Regions from separate parts of the Homo sapiens genome. Here region 2 is linked to region 1. A link means that fine-mapping ties the variant in region 1 to the expression of a gene that starts in the linked region. Tissue or cell type: whole blood. Region 1 holds a variant in brackets; the other region holds the start of a gene. All regions are shown on one strand. Distances are from middle to middle.

Region 1 (6,068 bases):
TCATCCAGCTTGGTCCCCTCGGCCCCTCCGACCTTCTCACTGACCAGCTAGAGGACAGAAGAGGGGAAACGCTGTGAGCCCAGGGGTAGGAGGAAGAAGAGGACAGGAGGCCCTGAGCCGCCTTCCAGCCACATCGCATCCACAGCTGGAGGCAGGAGGCCAAGTGATCAGGACACACACCTCAGGCACTGCCGTGGGCACCCCAGGGCCACACGCTGCCTGCAGAGCAGGGTGGGCCTGCAGGGGGAGGGGGAGGGTGGGGGTGGCCTGCCCACCTGTGTGTGTCCCGACTGCCACTCACATACCCACTGGGGACCCTGCCACAGTAGGCCCCATCTGGGCCACGGTGGAGTCCAGAGCCTCAGCCTGAGAACACATGGCTCAGAAGACACTGCTTCCAGAAGCGCCTACACAAACATCCCCACAGATAGCAATGTGGGGATCTGCCCCCATCCTTGAGTATGTGGGGTCTACTTAAAAAAAAAAATCCTGCCAGCTTGGCTGGGAGAGGCAGCAGGAGCTGACAGTTACGAGAAGAGGTGCAGGCAGCCGGGCAGGGAGGCCGCCATTCTCCTGTGCTCTGGTGCCCGTGTCTGCAGGATGGGACAGCCCAGCCCTTGCCCCATGTGGACACTGAGTTTCACAAGGCAGTCAACACAGGCCTGGCACACCTTGGTCCTCACGGCTCTCAGCTACGGTGAAAGCGATGACAATGACAGGCACTTACAGCGTCTTTCCTCGTGTGGTGGGAAGGCAGAAGCAAGCACTGAATTCCCAAACCACTCCCTCTGACAGCGCCTGGGATGCGAAAAACAGCCCTGAAATGTCCCATGGAACATGGCGGGAACCACTGAACCCCAGCACCGCTGTCTGAGCACAGGCGTTGCTTTCTTCACCCCACGTATCCCATGTGTGCCTGGCGCCAAGGGATGCCGCACAGAGTGAGGATGGACAGTGTGAGGCCCTTCCCAGCACACAGCGCTTCATGAAGAGCCGAGTGGCTGCCAGGCCCTGCCACAAATGGAGGCTCCCAGAGGGAGGCCGCCTGAGGTCACAAGCTTGGCCCTGCCCTCTGGGGGCCAAGTGTCACAGGGTGTGCCATCTCTGAAGTCATCGGCAAATTTAACATCCCGGGTCTGATCACTTGTGTGAAGACGTGCACACACGGCCTGGGCAGGAGAGTGAGGTGTTGCGTGCCGTGGGCCATGGCCTGTGCCCCTGGTGCTCCCCAGGTCTGATTGGTGCTTGCCTGCCCCGAGCTGTCACAAGACGTGGCCAAGGGATGCCATGAGGGTCCGTGTGGTGCCACACTGCGTTGGCTGTGTGGGGCTGGGGGGTGTCCAGCAGGGCAGTCAGGAGTTTAGGACCCAGCCTGGGAGGAAGTGACCCAAGAGCAGGAAGTGCGGGGGCAGGAGAAGCTTGAGCCTGGGGCTCTGCCCACGCCAGGCACCTGGTGTACCCTCTAGCCCATGCCTGGAGGTCACAGCCCAAGGCACCATGAGTGCAAATGCCCCCAACCCCAAGTTCTGCAAAAGGTAGCCTGCCCGGAGTACACGGCTGGTCTTGTGTCCTGGCAACCTGCCCAAAAAGACACCAGCCCCTTTGCCAAGGAATTCCTGGCCCTCCTCCAAGGCTTGGCTCTGGAAGCCCCCACACCACGGGACTGTCCTCACCCACGCATCGGGACCCTTTCTGTCCACCTGCCTTCATGTGCGGGGTGTGCCGGGCATTCAGTGAGCACAGGCCCCATGCCTCTGACCCCTGTCCCTTTCCTGCCTGTGGGTTGGTGGCTCTCAACTCAGCCACACAGCACCTTGGAAGCTTCTTAAAAATCCCCTCGTTGGCCGGGCGCGGTGACTCATGCCTGTAATCCCAGCACTTTGGGAGGCTGAGGCAGGCGGATCATGAGGTCAGGAGATCGAGACCATCCTGGCTAACACAGTGAAACCCCGTCTCTACTAAAAATACAAAAAAATTAGCCGGGCCTGATGGCGGGTGCCTGTAGTCCCAGCTACTCGGGAGGCTGAGGTAGGAGAATGGTGTGAACCCGGGAGGTGGAGCTTGCAGTCAGCAGAGATCCAGCCACTGCACTCCAGCCTAGGCGACAGAGCAAGACTCCATCTCAAAAGAAAGAAGAAAGAAAAAAAAAATCACCTCGTCACACCCACCGCGGGAGGGCTGACTCTGGCACAGGTGAGAAGCAGGAACTGTCCCTTGCGGGGCAGGAGAGTGGGGCTGCCCTCCATTTCTGCTGAAGGCATTAGGAGGAAGGAGCCCCCCCTCCCTAGGTGTTTTTGGGGCGTTCCACTCTATTTCCTGGGACAGTTTCACTTCTTTTGATTGTGGCGAGAGAGGGCGTGCTCAGAGCCAGCGGCTGCCGGAGAGGGAAATGAGTGGCTGATGTGAGACTGGACTCTTCTGGGAAGCCGGGAGGAGAACTGAAGCCAGCGGGCTGCGAAACCACACCTTCTGGGCGGAGGCCACCCCGGCCCCACGACCTGCCCAGGCAGGACCCAGTGTGCAGGCTGGCAGGAGTGGCTCCGTCAGGGCCCTTCCCCAGCCCCCTGCCTCTCACAGGGCAGGAGGAGAGGCCCTACCGGCGAGGACCACATCCTGCCTCTGAGGGGAGGGGCTGGGGACCCGCCACGGTACCAAAGACCCACCTGGTGGCCTCTGGCTCTGGCCCTGGCCCCACCTGCCCATCTCACCTGGGAATCCAGGACCCTGCCTTCCTGAGCCCCAGGACGACTTCCTGAACCCCCACAACCGCCTGACTCCTCGCACCCCTGACACCCGGGAGGCTGTGCCCTAACTACCCGGGTCCCTCTGCTCAGCTCCAGCCAAGTCCCTTGTGGTGACTGATGGTCCCCCACGGGCCAGGCACTGGGCAGGGGACACAACCCTGTAAGGCCCCTTCTCTCCAAGGCTTATGGGCTAGAAACCAGCACAGATGGACACAGGGATGAGCAGCCACAAGGGAAACACGGGAAAAGCAAGGCAGCCGGGCCACGTGCAGCGCCGGCCGCAAGCGCGGAAACCAAGCGTGGGCTCCTGCCCGCTGGGGCCCTACTCACTGCGGTCTCCACACCAGCACACTGCTGAGCACGGAGGGGACCGAGAGTCTGCGGCAGAGCTGGGCGCCACGGGGAGGCT[C/G]ACCAGAGGGCGCCTCTGGGCTCGCTGTCAGGAGCGAGTGTTCCTAACCCTGGTGCCATCTGCCAGGCAAGAGCTGCCTGTTGTGGGGCAGCCAGCCCCAATGCCCCCGCATCAGAGACCCTACCGGTGGGGAGGGAGGACTGAGGCCATGGTCCCAGCAGTCCATTCCTGCCGAGGGAGACTCTGCAGGCTGGCTGTAGCCCTGACTAGTGCAGCGGACTCAGCAGTGGCAATGACAGCTCCGCACTCGAGTCCATCCCATACCCACAAGGCTCGCCTCCTGTTCCCACCCCGCATGGCAGGAAACGGAGGAAAATAATGGGGCCACTCAGTAGCCAGGGACCCAACAGGGCTCAGGGGTGAGACCACCCTCCGCTGACTGAACCTGCATCAGGGTGGCAGGGTGGGTGGGGGCCCCCTCCCCACTCTCCCACAGGGCCCCACCTGGACGGGGTCAGAGTACCAGCTGCAAACCCCGAGTGACCAACCGCAGGCCCCACAAGGGCTGCCATCCTGAGAGCAACACCAGCGCCTTCTCTCCCCATGCCTGGAACAAACAGGCCGAGCCCAAGAGGGAACAGTCTCCAAGACTCTGCCCCTGCTTCAGATGCCGGCTGGCCTCCCACAGAGGCTGTGACATGTCCCCGCCTGGAGCAGGGAGAAGTGAGGTTTGGCCAACCCTGCCAGGCGAGGACCAGGGCTGAGAAGTCACTATGGGAGAGGCCCCGGCTCAGTCAGGCCTGGCAGTGGCCTCTGGGAAGGATCCCACTGTTGCCTGCCGGACACTTCCCCAGGGTTTGGCAAGACTGGCTTGTGGTCTTTCAGATCTTTGCCCAGAGATGCCCAGCGGAGACCTGCCCACTCTATGCTCACGCATCCCACCTGCACCCGCCACCTGCATGCCGCATGGATTTTCTGCCTGACCCTGTACTCTGTCACCTGTGAGCCAGGCACCTGGGAAACGAGCAAGCTGGACACGAAGATGGGGTTTTGCCCCAGAGCATGGGACTCTTGTCCCCCTGGGAGAAGGGGGCTATTCCTTTGAAGCCTGGCATTCATTAGAGTTTAGACCTTTGGCTCTCTTTGGAGGGGAGCAAGGGATGTGACACACAGAACAGAGAATACAAGGTGGAAAAATACAGAAATGAACTGTGAAGACACTGTGGACTGAGAGTCAGGACAGGGCTACCGTAGGCAGGAGAATCCCAGGTTTTACCCAGAGGGGTGTGGGCAGCTGCCCTGTGCCCGGCAGGCACAGCTGTGGTGGCCACTTGGCAGGAGCAGGAGGAAAATTCCGAATCCTGCCGAGTGGAGCTGGCTGCTGCCGATGGGCGGCCTTGGGATTTAAACATCTCAGCGGGGAAACCTGATCCACACAGCACGGAACACAAATGCCCGTCTCGGGCTTGGTGCCCCAGCAGACTATCTGCTCTGATGAATTCACAGGGTTTTGTTTTTTTTTCTCTTTTAAAGAAGAAAGCCAGCGTGGGGGAGGGCAAGGGAGGGCTGCTGTGGCCCAGCCTGCAGGGATGCGCCACATTTGCCCGCAGAGGGGTCGGCCCCAGGGTCCTCAGGTCTCACTGGCAGTCATGCTGTGGTGCTTGGTAATTTCCAGGTTCACAGCAGAGTTCACGGGTCCTCCCTCGGCTGGGGAGCGGGTCTCTGGCTGGTGTCTGCCTGCCCGTCGGCATCGGTGGTGCTGTGGTGCTGCACGCTGTGCTACAGAGCCATCTCCGCGTCCCTCCCTGCAGTCCTCCTCAGCGGAATCTGTGAGCGCACAGACCACAGGGGCCTCGCCCAGTGCCAGGCACAGAGCGGAGAAATGGCAGGTGGGCACGGCTGGTCAACCGCAGCGAATACCTGTGACAAGGCCTCATCTTTTTTTTTCTTTTTAAAGAGGCAGGGGTCTCACTATGTTGCCCAGGCTGGTCTCAAACTCGGCCTCAAGCAATCCTACCTCAGCCTTCCAAGTGCCAAAACTACAGGCATGACACAGTGTGCCTGGCCAAGGCCATACATTTACAGGACTAGGGGACAACAGCCCCAGGACAAAGCATGGGTTGGGGAGCTGGGGACCATAGGAGGGGGTCCAGGCCCAGCCACCTGCAGGACCAGGGACAGGGCAGGCAGGACACACGGAACAAGGGCCACTATTCACAGTCCCATGTGCCAGCCCCCATGCTAGGCACTCTGTGCCCGGCCCCCAACGTCACAGAGGAGGAAGCTGAAGGGGACGTGGAGGAGGCGAGTGCTCAGCCCCTCCTCACAGTGGGCGCAGTTCTAACACTGCAGCTGTGTTCAAGGCCTGGTCAGCCATGGAAAGGGGCAAAGCCAGGGTAAGGCCTGCAGAAGCAGCAGAGTCCTTATCAGACCTCTGTGCAAAACAGCTGGAATACAGGGTCGGGGTGGAGGCCCCAGGGAGGGACGTAAGGATCCCTGTGGTGTAGAAAAAGCCCTGACGTGGGAAGAGGGCAGGGGCAAAGGATGTAGGGATGTATCATATCCGTGTGTCTCTGAACCCCTTTCCATCTGCAACGCCCTTCCCTGCTGGCCCAACACCTGGGAGCCACTGCCCAACACACATGGCCACCTCGAGTCCATCACAGCTTCTTTCCCATGAGTCAAAAAGTCGAAGACGCGCACAGCCTGGAGGCGGCCTGCTGCCCAGCGACACAGGAAGCCACTGGCCTTCGTGTCCCCTTTTCCATGTGGGCTCCCAGGCTCCTGGCTTGCTGATGTGTCTGTCTGTCCTTCCTGGAAACCTTCAGTGGCCCCAGTGGCATGGGGACTCTCCAGACCTGAGGCCCTTGCGTGCTGACTATGAAAGCTCGCCTATCTACAGGGGCGGCGCTGGCTGCAGGCAGCTCTGAGCTTTCCTGTGACAGTAAGTGCCTGGCATGGGTGGGGTTGTGGCC
Region 2 (5,578 bases), 27 kb before region 1:
TGGGGTTACAGGTGTGTGCCACTGTGCCTGGCGTCTATCTTTAATCTTCAAATCCCTTTGCCACGTATCCTAACGTATTCACAGATTCTGGGAATTAGGGCGTGGATATCTTTAAGAGACCATTATTCTGCCTACCACAGCCTGTTTAATATGGTGGACAATTGATTAATTTTGAATACTGAATCAGTCTTGGGTCCCTGGAGTAAACCCCACTTGTCATGGTGTATAATTCACTTTATATATTGTTAAATTCTACTTTGTAATATTTTGTTAAGGATTTTTGCACGTCTTCATGAGGGATATGGGGTGTAGCTTGCTTTCTTTGTACCGTCTTTATCTGGTTTTGGTATCAGGGTCATAGTTCCATAAAATGAACAGGGAAGTGTCCCCTTCAATTTTCTGGAAGAGATGATGTGAAATTGGTGTTAATTCTTCTTTGAACCTTTGGCAGAATTCCTTAGTGAAACCATCTGGGTCTGGAGATTGCTTTTTTGGGAGTTTTTAAATTACAAATTCAATTTCCTTAGTAGTTACCAGGGCTAGACTTTGTATACATAGCAGAACAGGTGTTCTAGAAATCACAGAAAGGCCGTGGGACTGTGGCAATGTGTTCATCCACTGAACTGTCTGATAAAGTTGATAGTATCAGCTATACTAAGTAAGGTCAGAGAGTTGATTTTTGTTTCGTTTTTTTGTTTGTTTGTTTTTTCAGACAGGGTTTTGCTCCTTTTGCCCAGGCTGGAGTGCAGTGGCATGATTTCGGCTCACTGCAACCTCCGCCTCCCGGGTTCAAGCGATTTTCCTGCCTCAGCCTCTGGAGTAGCTGGGATTACAGGTGCCTGCCACCACCCCCGGCTAATTTTTTTGTTTTTATTAGAGATGGGGTTTCACCATGTTGGTCAGGCTGGTCTTCAGCTTCTGACCTCAAGTGATCCCAAAGTGCTGGGATTACAGGCGTGAGCCACTGTGCCCAGCCAGGGTGGTTAGTTTTTATTGTATTTGTCTAAGGCAATGTGGAGCGACAGAAGGATTTACAGCATGAGAGGAGGGCAGGGTGCGGTGGCTCACGCCTGTAATCCAAACACTTTGGGAGCCCAAGTGGGAAGATTGCTTAAGGCCAGGACTTGGAGACCAGCATGGGCAACATAGTGAGATCCCCTTCTTTTACAAGAAAATTAAAAATTAGCCAGGCATGCTGGTCACGCCTGTTGTCTCAGCTACTCTGGAGGCTGAGGCAAGAGGATCATTTGAGTCCAGGAGGCCAAGGCTGCAGTGAGCCATGATTACACCAATGCACTCCAGCCTGGGAGATAGAGCAAGGCCCTGTCTCGAAAAGAAAAGAAAATAGGCTGGGCGCAGTGGCTCACACCTGTAATCCCAGCACTTTGGGAGGCTGAGGCAGGTGGATCACCTGAGGTTGGGAGTTCGAGACCAGCCTGGCAAACATGGTGAAACCCCTTCTCTACTAAAAATACAAAAATTAGCTGGGTGTGGTGATGTGCATCTGCAGTCCCAGCTAATTGGGAGGCTGAGGCAGGAGAATCGCTTGAACCTGGTAGGCAGAGGTTGTAGCGAGCCAAGATCTTGCCACTACACTCCGGCCTGGGTGACAGAGCGAGACTCCGTCTCAAAAAAAAAAAAAAAAAAAAAAAAAAAAAAAGAAAAAAGAAAAGAAAAGAAAACAAAATAATAATATGGGAGGGAGGTGGTAATAGGTGCATTTTAGAAAGAGCCCTCTGGGGCAATGGTGGAAGACCGACAGGGTGGGGCATGAGTTTGGAGGCCTGAGACTCACTGCGATGGCCAGGATTTGGGTGCAAGAGGCTGGAGGTGTGGCTCAGGGTTTTGGAAGGCAGGGGACGGAAAAAAAGCCAAAGAGAAAGTGCGTAAGGAGTTGGGGAAATAAACTGAGGCCGGTTTGGGCTATGCTGAGTCTGCAGGCCTTGGGGATGCCCGTTGTTGGCTGGACAGTCAGGGTGGGGCCCCTAAAGGGTGCCTGGGCTGGACAACAATAGTTCACATGTACCCAGCTCTTGCTCTATGTCAAGTCTTCTTCCTGAGAACATTCCCGAGCACCCTGGAGAGCCTCCCCCGCACCCCTACTGTCCAGTTCCCACTTCCCGACTGCGGTCTGGGCAAAGCCACCCGCACTTGAGCCCATCCCACGGCGTCCCGGAGCTTTAGGAAGTCCCCATCCCGGACTTTCAACCCTGCCAGGGACTGAGGGAAATCCCAGAGCCTGGGCTCCGGGACGAAGGTCCCAGGACAGGGTCGGGGATGTAGTTGCAGAAACAGGGTAGGGGACAAAGGCCGGGGCTGCACTGATCAGGCGCGCAACGAGCCCGGCCCTGCCTCCTGCTCCGCCCAAGGGTATGGAGGGCCGGACTCGGCTGGCCTTATACCCGGAGCTGATTGGCTGGTGAGTCCAGTCCCTGCCTCTGATGGTTTGCGCTCATAACTAAGGGTTTCTACTGATTGGTTTACATGGACGTCTGCCCATTGGTCAAATCCGAGTTGGTGTAATCAGATAGTTGACACGGATTGGTTGGTGCGGGAATCCAGTAGCTTGCTATCGATTGGTTGAGGGTGAAATAAATGGGACTCTTATCATTGGCTGGCGGGCTCCGCAACGGTCCAATCATGGAATCAGTCGAGGGCCGCCCGGGAGGGTGGGAGTTAATTCTTTAGCGACTGAGGCCGGCTTGGGCTCTTTGGCTCCACCTGTGTCTGCGCGAGGCTGTTCCCTATTGGAGTCCGCATTGTTCCCCTGGACCTGAGTTTCTCCCCTGGTCCTAAAGGCCGAGGCCTCTGAGTTCCTCAAGTGCGGTGACCGCAGGTCTCACCTTCTCCTCTCCTTGCAGCAGGCTGAGCCACTCGCGCACCCGCCCCAGGCTTCCACCTTGCAACCTCTATCCCTGGACAGCGAGGCCTCAGTTTCCCCATTCGCACCAATGAGCTCCCGGTCAACACCCCGTCACGCCTCAGTTTCCCGAATGTTCCCAGAGGGCTGAGTTCCCGATCTCTCTCCCGCGTGGGCATCCCCGAGGCCTCAGTTTCTCCGCCCACCCCAGCGCGCCGAGCCCTTCCCCCGACCCCGGCGACGGCCAATGGTTGGGGCGCCCCTCCCCTCCCCGGGGCGGGGCCGCGTGACGTGCCGGGAAGCCGGAGTCTAGAGCTCCGGGCGCGGGGAGGCGCGGCCATGGCAGGTACGGCGGGCCCAGCGGGGCGGAGGCGCGGGGCGCGGGGCTGCAGGGGCGCGGGGCTGCAGAGCCGTGGGGCGAGCGGCCTCCCTGCAGCCTCTCGCTGTCCGCAGCTCCGGAGCCGCTGTCCCCGGCGGGCGGTGCGGGCGAGGAGGCGCCGGAGGAGGACGAGGACGAAGCGGAGGCCGAGGACCCTGAGCGGCCGAATGCGGGAGCGGGCGGTGGACGCAGTGGCGGCGGCGGCAGTAGCGTCAGCGGAGGAGGCGGCGGCGGCGGGGCCGGGGCGGGGGGCTGCGGCGGGCCCGGGGGCGCGCTCACCAGGCGCGCGGTCACACTGCGGGTGCTCCTCAAAGACGCGCTGCTGGAGCCTGGCGCCGGGGTGCTGTCCATCTACTACCTGGTGAGCACCCCGCCTCCCTCGTCCCATCGCGGCTCGGGCAGGAAGGGGAAACTGAGGCCTGGAGTTCCCTTGCTGCAGGACAAGCTTCAGTGTAGGGAGGGGACACTGAGGCCCGGAGCTCCCTTGCTGAGAGACGAGCCCCGGTGTGGCGAGGGGAAACTGAGGCCCGGGGCTCCGTTGACTGCAGGAAGAGCTCCAGTGTGAGGAGGGGAAACTGAGGCTCGGAGCTCTCTTGGCTGCAGGAAGAGCCCCGACATGAAGAGGGGAGACTGAGGCCCGGAGCTCCCTTGGCGGCAGGAAGAGCCCCGGTGTGAGGAAGGGAGACTGAGGCCTGGAGAGCTCCCTTGCTTTAGGACAAGCCCCAGTGTGGGGAGGGGAAACTGAGGCCCAGAGCTCCTTTCCTGCAGGAGGAGCTCCCGTGGAGGGGACACTGAGGCCCGGAGCTCTTTTTACGGGACAAGCCCCATGTGGAGAGAGGAATCTGAGGCACAGATGGGTCCTTCTGGTGGGGAGGACGTAGATTACCAAACACCCCATCCCACAAAGGAGAAGCTGAGGCTCAGAGAGGAGCCACCACCCGCGCAGGGTCAGATGGGCAACACCCCGGCCTTCCTGTGGTTTCCCAGCCGTGAAATGGAATATTTCCCCACCATGGGAAAATTAGGGGATGGTTAAATGAATAAAGCCCTCAGCAGGCGCCTGCCACATGGTAAGCACTTTATCTGTGGTAGGTATTAGTACTTTTTTTTTTTTTTTTTTTTTGAGACAGAGTCTCGCTTTTTTGCCCAGGCTGGAATGCAGTTGCTCGATCTCGGCTCACTGCAACCTCTGCCTCCCGGTTCAAGCGATTTTCTGCCTCAGCCTCCCGAGTAGCTGGGACTACAGGTATGCGCCACCACGCCTGGCTAATTTTTTTTTTTTGCAGTTTTAGTAGAGACGGGGTTTCACTATATTGGCCAGGCTGGTCTTGAACTCCTGACCTCGTGGTCCGCCTGCCTCAGCTCCCAAAGTGCTGGGATTATAGGCGTGAGCCACCATGCCCGGCCTTTTTTTTTTTTTTTTTTTTTTTTTGAGACAGAGTCTCGCGCTGTTGCCCAGGCTGGAATGCAGTAGCATGATCTCGGCTCACTGCAACCTCTGCCTCCCGGTTCAAGCAATTCTCCTGCCTTAGCCTCTTGAGTAGCTGGGATTACAGGCACCCGCCACCACGCCTGGCTAATTTTTATATTTTTAGTAGAGATGGGGTTTCACCATGTTGGCCAGGCTGGTCTCAAACTCCTGACCTCAGGTGATCCGCCCGCCTCAGCCTCCCAAAGTGCTGGGATTACAGGCGTGAACCACTGCACCCAGCCCTGTATTATTACTATTACTGTTGTCATTATTGTTTGATTTGTGAATGGTAGCACATTATTCCCCTTCTGAATGGGAGTTTCTGAATGGAGCAACTGCTGAGTGTTGCATCCTGGAGACACAGCAGTGATCAAGACAGACAGACCCTATCCCCGATCTTAGGGGTTTCTTGGTCATGGTGGGCGGGGTGCAGATATCTGCCAGGCAGCTTGGTGCAGGCTGATCAGGTTTGTGGGTGTGGACTCCCAGGCACTGAGGAGGCCCTGCAGCCGGCCTGAGAGGTGTTCCTGGAAGCCCTGTAAAGACATGCCTGAGGGAGCGTAGGTCTGGGGAGGACCCCCCGGGAGAGAGGGCATGGTGGGTGTTGGTCCTGGGCCCAGCCAGCTGACTGTCACTGCAGGGGAAGAAGTTCCTGGGCGACCTGCAGCCAGACGGAAGGATCATGTGGCAGGAGACCGGGCAGACCTTCAACTCACCCAGCGCCTGGGCCACCCACTGCAAGAAGCTGGTGAACCCTGCCAAGAAGTCGGGCTGTGGCTGGGCCTCTGTCAAGTACAAAGGCCAGAAACTGGACAAGTACAAGGCCACCTGGCTCCGGCTGCACCAGCTGCACACGCCTGCCACGGCT

What was found. PIP is the estimated chance that this variant, and not a neighbour inherited with it, causes the effect.
Region 2: MPND starts here. The variant in region 1 is fine-mapped to the expression of MPND in whole blood (INTERVAL, PIP above 0.99).

What each region holds. Positions count from the first base shown.
Region 1 is chr19:4,366,948-4,373,015 of GRCh38, forward strand. It overlaps SH3GL1 (SH3 domain containing GRB2 like 1, endophilin A2), which reads right to left. Exons shown (of 10, transcript NM_003025.4): 2 at 1-47. Among named protein-coding and RNA genes, the nearest start is that of MPND, 26 kb to the left of the region's middle. RefSeq lists enhancers at 2,045-2,994, 2,353-2,542, 2,995-3,942, 5,487-6,068. The variant C/G (reference allele first, on the strand shown) is at 3,154.
Region 2 is chr19:4,340,395-4,345,972 of GRCh38, forward strand. MPND (MPN domain containing) reads left to right here and starts at 3,168. Exons shown (of 13, transcript NM_001300862.2): 1 at 3,168-3,206; 2 at 3,314-3,600; 3 at 5,351-5,578. The coding sequence starts at 3,200. RefSeq lists enhancers at 2,080-2,199, 2,220-2,951 and a silencer at 3,020-3,309.